Regions from separate parts of the Homo sapiens genome. Here region 2 is reported to be linked to region 1. Evidence: microRNA targets listed by miRTarBase, many of them from high-throughput screens and not tested one by one. Region 1 holds a microRNA gene; the other region holds the end of a gene's coding sequence. Distances are between the middles of the regions.

Region 1 (4,151 bases):
TTTAGCATTTTTTATATGACAAGTCTAGTGGCAATAAACTCCCTCAGCTTTCGATTTTTTTAATTTTGTCTTAAGTTTTAAAGGATAATTTTCTGGGTATACTGTTTTGATTGGCAGTTGTGTATTTGTTTGTTTGTTTCCGCATTTTAAATGTATCATCCAACTCCCTTCTGGCCTCCAAAGTTTCTGCTGAAAATCCACCAATGATCATAGGAGGGTTCCCTAACACATAACAAGTTGTTTTTCTTTTGCTGCTTTCAGTGGTCTCTGGGTGTCCAGAGTATGCCAGCTCTCATCATTGCCCTGAAACAGGTGAGATACTGATCCTTTTTAGTAGTAACCATAAATGTTGGGGCACTAACTGGATTTTCCAATTTCTTCTCTCCTCAGGGAAAAGCTGGGTGTATAATCTGCTCATGCTGAACTGAGCTGGGGAAAAGAACTATGGCAAATGTTTGCAAGCTCATTCAAACCACAGACTTTTTCAAACTGTTGCTTTGATCTCTGTAGCCTCCATGGGCCTAATGGATGCTGATCTCCATTAGTTCTCATAGACACGTCAGTTGAAAGCTAGTTCCTCAGGTAGCAGCTGGAAAAGTTAAGGGGATAGATATGTAGATAAATTCCTTCCAGACTGAAGCTAGAGGCTTGCTTTTATCATTAGAGTGAGCAAGTGGGAGAATTTGTGGAAATATCCACATGCCTGTTTAAAATGGCTGCTTTGTTTTCTATAGCCCACATGTAAATAGTGAATGGCAACACCAATAGCTCTCATAGACAGTGAGTTAGAAGCCAGACCTCAGGTAGGAGCTAGAAAACTTAGAATGCTTGATTTGTAGTCTAACTTCTTTCATAGAGAATCTGGGAACTGGGCTTTGTTGTTGTAGCTAGTTGGTGAATGAGGAGGTGAAGTGGAGGAGATATGGGAAGAACCCATTTGTTTGGGCATTTTTTCTCAATGTACCTTAGTTTGTCTGTAGTAGCTGGCCACAGTAGTGATGATTCTATTTCCTGAGAGGTGAGAATTGCTGCCAAAGAATGTCTGCCATGGATGAGAATACAAAGAAAGGAAACTAAGAACTCTCAAAGCAGCTACTAGAAACCCTTCATAGAGGACAAGAATTATCTTCAGTTTTGAGATATATGAGAATGATTACAACTCCTTTGAGCAGGCTTCACATACTGCCCAAAGATGCTTCTCTAGTTTGTGTCCTTCTTGCTATCAGAAAGAGAGAAGGAAACTAAATAAAACAAAATAAAAATTTTAGAATTTTGTGCTGTCTTGGACATGGAAGCAATGGGTCAGGATCAAGATTGTGGAAAGATGCCAGTTCGGATGCAGGCTAGAAAAATTAGTATTGTCCTCAACTGGAATCAGCAACCAAAAGACTAAGTGTATGTGTCTCTGTAGGCTGAAGGGTTTTCAGATATCATAAAAGATAAGAAGTCAAGCTACACTTGTTTGGAAGCATGTGGCAGAGAACACAGATTAATTGTTTAAAGGATGGCCCAAACTTAAGGCCAAGTCACATCAAACCCATCAGAAACCAAAAGTGTGGCAGAATTCCTAACAGAAGGATGAGAGAGGAAGAGCCTTATATAGATCTGTCTTCTGTTTCACATTCTGACTATTCTAAAGCTTTTAATGAAGAATTCCCTAGAGTCATAAAACAAAGGCTAAATGGTGAGTGGCTGCAAATACACATAAAAATATAGTGAATTTTTTGAAAAGATATACTAATTTCAGGTGGCTAGAAAGATTTATTAACATAAGTAATAAAGGTCTTTTAGTTGTCAAAGTAACTTATACTTAATATTTATTGCAATTTTAAAAAATTAAAATGCTAAAAATTATTTGTGAAAATGAGTTGTTTTATATGTTTACATTTAATAACAATACTTTTTACATAAAGAAAATACAATAATTAAATATATCTGAACTAGTCAAAAGATAATTATAAGATTTAAAATTGAGTTTATGTGCAATAAATGTGGTAAACAATAATGTGATATAAAATCTTCTAAATTTAATAATATTCTTGGTAGAGGATTCTGGGGCAAAAATATGATTTTCTCCATATCCCTGCCCACTACCCAATATATGATAACATGTGGCATTATTAAATATGGAAAAATATTAAAGAATGGCAGTAGACTAGAGAGAAGAGAAGGAAAGGCATACAGGAAATCCAGGTCCCTGCCCTCAGAGACCTCTCAATTCCTGGCATATGTTTATGTTTTGAACATTATGCAAATTTGTCTGCATGACAAATTTATTCTTGTTTCAGGTTAAGAGTAGAAATCAACCCATAGTCCTTACGATTAGAATTGCCTTAGCATAACGATTCAATCAGTAAGAAAATATAATAGACTAGAGGGTAATGGAGATTTTAAAATTTATATTATCTTAATATATTTATTAGAAAAAATATTAGATTGCTCAATAAATCAATGGTAACTTTAAGGCTTTTACTGTCTACTACAAAGAATTTTTATAGATATATGAAGAATGATGGTAAGGAAGAGATATGATGCCATGAGGCCTACTGTGAGCAAGACACTGCTAATCAGGCTATTAGGTTGGTCCAAAAGTAATTACAGTTTTTGTCTTTGAAAGTAATGTCAAAAACTGTGATTACTTTTGCACCAACCTAATACTTCCGCACTTTGGAAAGGCTTTGCCTACATCATTTTGGTTATTGTGAGAAGACTTGCACACATAAGGAATTTTTCAAAATAATATTTTAACTTGAAATACTTTTCTTTGACAAATACAGTAAAAGTGATAGAGCCAAAAAGAGGACTAGGCATAGCCCTGAGGGGATTTCCGAGCAAAAAAATCCCAGGGGATTTGTATGCAAACACTTCGCTCAATAAAAGGAGAGGCCAGGTGTGGTGGCTCACAACTGTAATCCCAGCACTGTGGGAGGCCGAGGTGGCTGGATTGCTTGAGCCCAGGAGTTTAGGACGAGCATGGGCAACATGACAAAAACTTATCTCTACCAAAAAAAAAAAAGAAAAAATAGCGGACATGGTGGGGTACACCTATAGTCCAGCCACTTAGAGAGGCTGATGTGGGAGAAACGCTTCAACTCGGGAGTTTGAGACCCGCCTGGGCAGTTTAGTGAAACCTCATCACTACAGATAATAATAATAATAATTATCTGGGTGTGGTGACACACGCCTATAGTTTCAGCTACTCTGGAGGCTGAGGTGGGCGGATAGATTGAACCCAGGATATCTAGGCTGCAGTGATCTGTGATCATGCCACTGCACTCCAGCCTGGGTGACAGAGACCCTCTCTTAACAAAATAAAAAATACAAAAAGGAGAAAGTCATCAAACAAAATGATGTGACTTAGTCTGGTAATATTCGTCAAGAAGTCAAGATTTATGCTCTCTTACAATTCTGACTTTCACATTGAATTAAATTAAGGGTGTCTTGGCTTGTTTAGTGTAGTTTAGTAAAATACAGTCATTTGTTTTCCACAGCTATTATATTATTCTCCATTAAAAAAAGAAGAAGAAGAAGAAATGAGAAAAAAAAATCAGTCCCTAGCTAGAAATTTTAAGAGTCAATAACATTTGGGAAATGAAAATATATTCTGAAGTAGTATAATCATACCCAAATTTTTAGACTCTGTACTCAATCTATAAGATGTATGTGAGCAAAATATTATTAGAAGCAACATGAATGATAATCACGCACTACAAGCGCACGAATAATGTTTCCCTGAAAGGTACAATAAAAAATTATTCAATGTGAAACAAAACGTTGACTGCAACAATTATTAAAATTTGACTATTGAATTGTCAGTATACTCAATTATGAAGACATTTGGAAAATATAAATGAGCACTACTGTTTTTGCTCATTTTTTAAAAATGAAAATTTTTGGTAATGTCTGACCTGAAGGCAGATATTCATTATAATAGTCAAATATCATAAATACATTTCAAATGTTATGTATTCTACATAAATTACTCAGGAGAGGAACATGTAGGCTCATAAACTTGCACACAAGTAAAGGAATGTTTCTTAGGAAAAAATTCTGTGTTAAAGATATTCCACACCAATGTCTCAGGAAAAGGCATTTGTAGTATACTGCTCCATTACCTATGCTTCATAAAAAATGCAGCTATCTAATTTAAT
Region 2 (4,014 bases), 23 Mb from region 1:
GATGCAATATTTGAACATTTGACTTTTATTAGACTAGTGAGAGCGTGGCGCCCACTTGACTATTTTTATTTTCTTCTTTACTAAAAAGATGTGTTGTGGACTCCTCTGTGTATTTCTTTAAAAATGCCTAAAGATCTTTGAGGAATTCGAGTCATGGGAAACTACATGTTTAAGTATTTAATTAGAAGCCTCTCCCATGAGCTGGAAAAAATCTCTTGGCACAATTATGGAATAACTATTTTCCCTTCACTGCTGTCTTTTTTTTTTTTTTTTGAGACGGAGTCTCACAGTTACCCAGGCTGCAGTGCAGTGGTGCGATCTCGGCTGACTGCAACCTCCACCTCCTGGGTTCAAGTGATTCTCCTGACTCAGCCTCCGAGTAGCTGGGATTACAGGCGCCTGCCACCATGCCCGGCTAATTTTTTTGAATTTTTAGTAGAGACAGGGTTTCACCATGTTGGCCAGCCTGGTCTCGAACCCTTGACCTCAAATGATTCACCTGCCTTGGCCTCCCAAAGTGCTGGGATTACAGGCGTGAGCCACTGCGCCCAGCCCACTGCTATCTTAATGTTCAATATTGTGGGCTTGCAAAGAAGCGTGGAATGAAACTGAAATAGTAAAAAGGTCTCCATGTATCTGCATTATTGGTGAGTTTTCACTTGTATGTAAGCAACGGCGTGCACAAACACTTAGCACACACACACGTTTGTGTGTATGTTATAAACGCACAACCCATCTACCACTAAGTCCAAAGTTTCACCAAATTATTTCATTTGTGCTTTTCACATAAAAACAATTTATAGATTTGTCTCTATCTAAAATATAAACATCATTTTTTGGAGATTATTTAATAATTAACGTACTTTCTCCAGAGTAAAGGGTAAAATTTCTTATTTCTATAAAATTTAAATAAGTGTTTTTCTTCTAATTGGAATGTGACAATGTATTTAAATATACTTTCTTTTCTAAATCTGCAACTACCTTTTTCAATGACATTATGAAGGAAGACTTACTAACAAATAAAATTCCACTGATAATTTATTTCAGCTTTTAATATATTTTCTACTATAAAACCAAGCTGTCAAGACAGGAAAATATTACTAGCTTTGTTATTACAAAACAAGTGAGAATTTTTAATTCACAAAGGATGAAAACGCAAGACATTAATCTCACTGTACATACAATATTACAATAAACTGATTAGCTGTAGACTAATAAAACATTTAAGACTTCACACACACACACACACACACACACACACACACACACGTACCTTGAAACAAGAAACACAGGACAATTTTAATCTTTGATATATGTTCATGAACACCAAGAACAAGAACATCACTGATTTGAGTCTAATTGTTTTCCTGGTATACAATCACTAAATAAGCAAGATCTAAAGCATATTGTATTATTAAGGACATCTTTAGGCAAATATAAACATTCTGATTTAGGGCTTTTTCTCCCCACCCGAAACAATCTGCTTTAGCTATCAAGTAGTTTGGTTTGTTATCAATTTAACACGCTCACAACAACAAATACAGACTTTCTACCACAAAATTCAGGTGAGAGGTTTTTAGACAGATCATACAAAAAAATACTTGTTCCCAAGGAAGGCAATCTGTAAATTATAAATGCAACCCTAAGAAAAAAAAATCCTGGTCACAAATCACTCGCTTTCAAATATTGATGGAGAAATAAAAAGTGTACGTTGTGGGTGGAGAAATGTTGGCATGGAAGAGAGGAGAAAAGGTATGAAATGAGGAAAGTGTTATTTGCCACAGGAAATATTGGATTCAGTTGATTTTTAAAAATGAGGTATAACAGTATGCCAGTAAATGAAAAAACAAAAAAATTAGAAACCAAAATGCACATTTCCAATGGAAAAATCTCTAAACCTCTTATAGTTTTATTAGACATTTCATGTACAGAAGTTAATCTAGAAAAATACATTTTAAAAATCTTCAACAGACCATGCTCCCTGTAACAAAACCTTCCAAACCCTGTGTTTTATTATACAAAGCAATCTACATTAGTAGGTAAAAAGAAATTCTCAAATTTAGCAATGTCATTTTCCATCCAACATCCATCTAATTTACAGATGGGTTTCCACTATTCATACTGGAATTAGAATTCTGTAATAAATTTTTTCTAATGTTTTCTGTACATATTAAATAACCCAAAAGGTTCCTCTTGTAGTGCATGTGCCATTTAGCAAGTCTATTCAGTATTTTTCCAGTACCATTCTCATTACAGTGATTTGCCTGTAAATGTAGTTAATATCTAAAAGTGCACACAGTTAACTTTCCCAAATAACGGACTATTTCTGGAGGAAACCTAATATTCACAGAAAAGATTACCAATAACAATGATTAGAAATGTAGGGTTAGAATGTACTCTGAGACTATACAACACAATTATATACACAAGCTAAAGGACATTAAGTCTTTAGCCTATATTTACATAAAATAATGTGTGTTTCCACAGGGTCATACCAATAACTCAGTATGGTACTAGATATAATTAGGATTGTTAGCTACAATTCAGTATAGCAAGACAGCCCTAAAATGCCCTGAACTGACTTCCGCTAACTAAAACTCCAGTATATCACAGTGTTTTAAGTAATATTAGTGTGCTGCCCAAACAAGCAACTAAGATATCCAGTAAGGATGCTGTGTAACACAGTAAAAGACAGCAAGCCTTCATCAAGGGGTTATTTTGGGGTTATAATGAATTTTGGCACTTAAGACTGCCACTGCATGCAGAAACCCCGAAAAAGAAATACACAGGTTTCAAAATGGATATACTTCATTTTGTTTAAAATGCCCAAGAGCCTTTGCAACATAACTGAAAGTATTGTTCTATCAAGTCATGAATCTTGAGAAGAAAGTACATTATCCAATTTCAGGGAAAAAAAATACAGTTTTCTTACCAAATTATCCAGTGTATATGACTGGTTAGAATTTTAAGTTTTGATTTTTACTGAAATTCAGAGTATGAAATGCAAACATTCAGGATAAAATGAATTCATAATTACACGCAGTTATATCAACTTGCAACAAAGCAGCAAATATGAGGGCCTAACACACATCTCGACTCTCCCCTTCCCTTCTGATCCCTCAAAAAAAAAGTGCAAAATCAAAGAGTCACTGCTTGGTCCAAAAAATAAAATACATTGTGTATAAACATTTGAAATCTGATGGAATCCAGCTTCTATTCCACAGGTTGTCTTCAGTAAGAATCAACGTCCGAAGATGGAACTCAGTTCCAGAAGAATTAATTCTACAATCTGATTCTGGTACACAGTATGAACTGCTATATTACCAGTCTCTTTTTCTGGTTTTAATAGAGTGGGACCAAAAACAATTGCTATACTCTGATAGGTCATTCGATTTTTCTCTCCATTTTCTATAACTCTGAAGGGAAAAAAAGAAGTTGTTAAAAGAGAAAATAAGAGAGAGGGAAAATTCTTCAAATGGTATTATAAACCTAACAGTTTGCATTTTAAAAAGAGAAGTAATACTTATTTTCCTAAGGTGATGCATAAACTATTTAACCAAGTAGAATTCTGTCTAAATGCCATGTGAAGCTTTCTTTTTGATAAACACAGCTGAAAGATACAATTAAGCATACTCTAACAAACTTAAAATGTGTGATATTTTAGCTTAGTTTTTAAAATAGAACATTTAAGTATGAGTTACAATTCAGGTAACAGTGACTGCTCCATTAAGTTGATGGGAAAAAAATCTCATTAGGGTGTGGAGATTAAACTTTCCATTTTACTCATTTTATGTAATTTCTTTAAAAAAAAAAAACTCTCTCTAGCTGGGATTTTTTGTTTTAGTATTCTAGTGTACTTTCTATCAGATGAAAGAACTTGGTTATTAAAGTGGCTATGTAGTAACCTAGAACCATGACGGTAACTTAATACACCTCAATTAATATCCAATCTCATCTTCATATTAACCTTAGCAACAATTTCTGAACACCTACTATGTGCTAAGCATTACATAA

Evidence for each region. Region 1 holds the annotated microRNA hsa-miR-548f-5p (UGCAAAAGUAAUCACAGUUUUU, at 2,625-2,646, opposite strand). A microRNA usually pairs through its seed, bases 2 to 8, with sites in the 3' UTR of a target mRNA and lowers its output. Matches are read on the target gene's strand: a 7mer-m8 pairs with bases 2 to 8, a 7mer-A1 pairs with bases 2 to 7 and ends in A, and an 8mer does both.
Region 2: the mRNA of ARHGAP12 is a reported target of hsa-miR-548f-5p. Seed matches in the 3' UTR shown: 7mer-A1 at 3,132-3,138.

What each region holds. Positions count from the first base shown.
Region 1 is chr10:54,605,302-54,609,452 of GRCh38, forward strand. It overlaps MIR548F1 (microRNA 548f-1), which reads right to left and starts at 2,656; the gene lies at 2,573-2,656. All of the region lies in intron 2 of PCDH15 (protocadherin related 15), which reads right to left. It overlaps LOC105378311 (a long non-coding RNA gene), which reads left to right. Exons shown (of 6, transcript NR_134503.1): 3 at 391-1,684.
Region 2 is chr10:31,804,417-31,808,430 of GRCh38, forward strand. It overlaps ARHGAP12 (Rho GTPase activating protein 12), which reads right to left. Exons shown (of 20, transcript NM_018287.7): 20 at 982-3,416. The coding sequence ends at 3,242. Among named protein-coding and RNA genes, the nearest start is that of MACORIS, 99 kb to the left of the region's middle.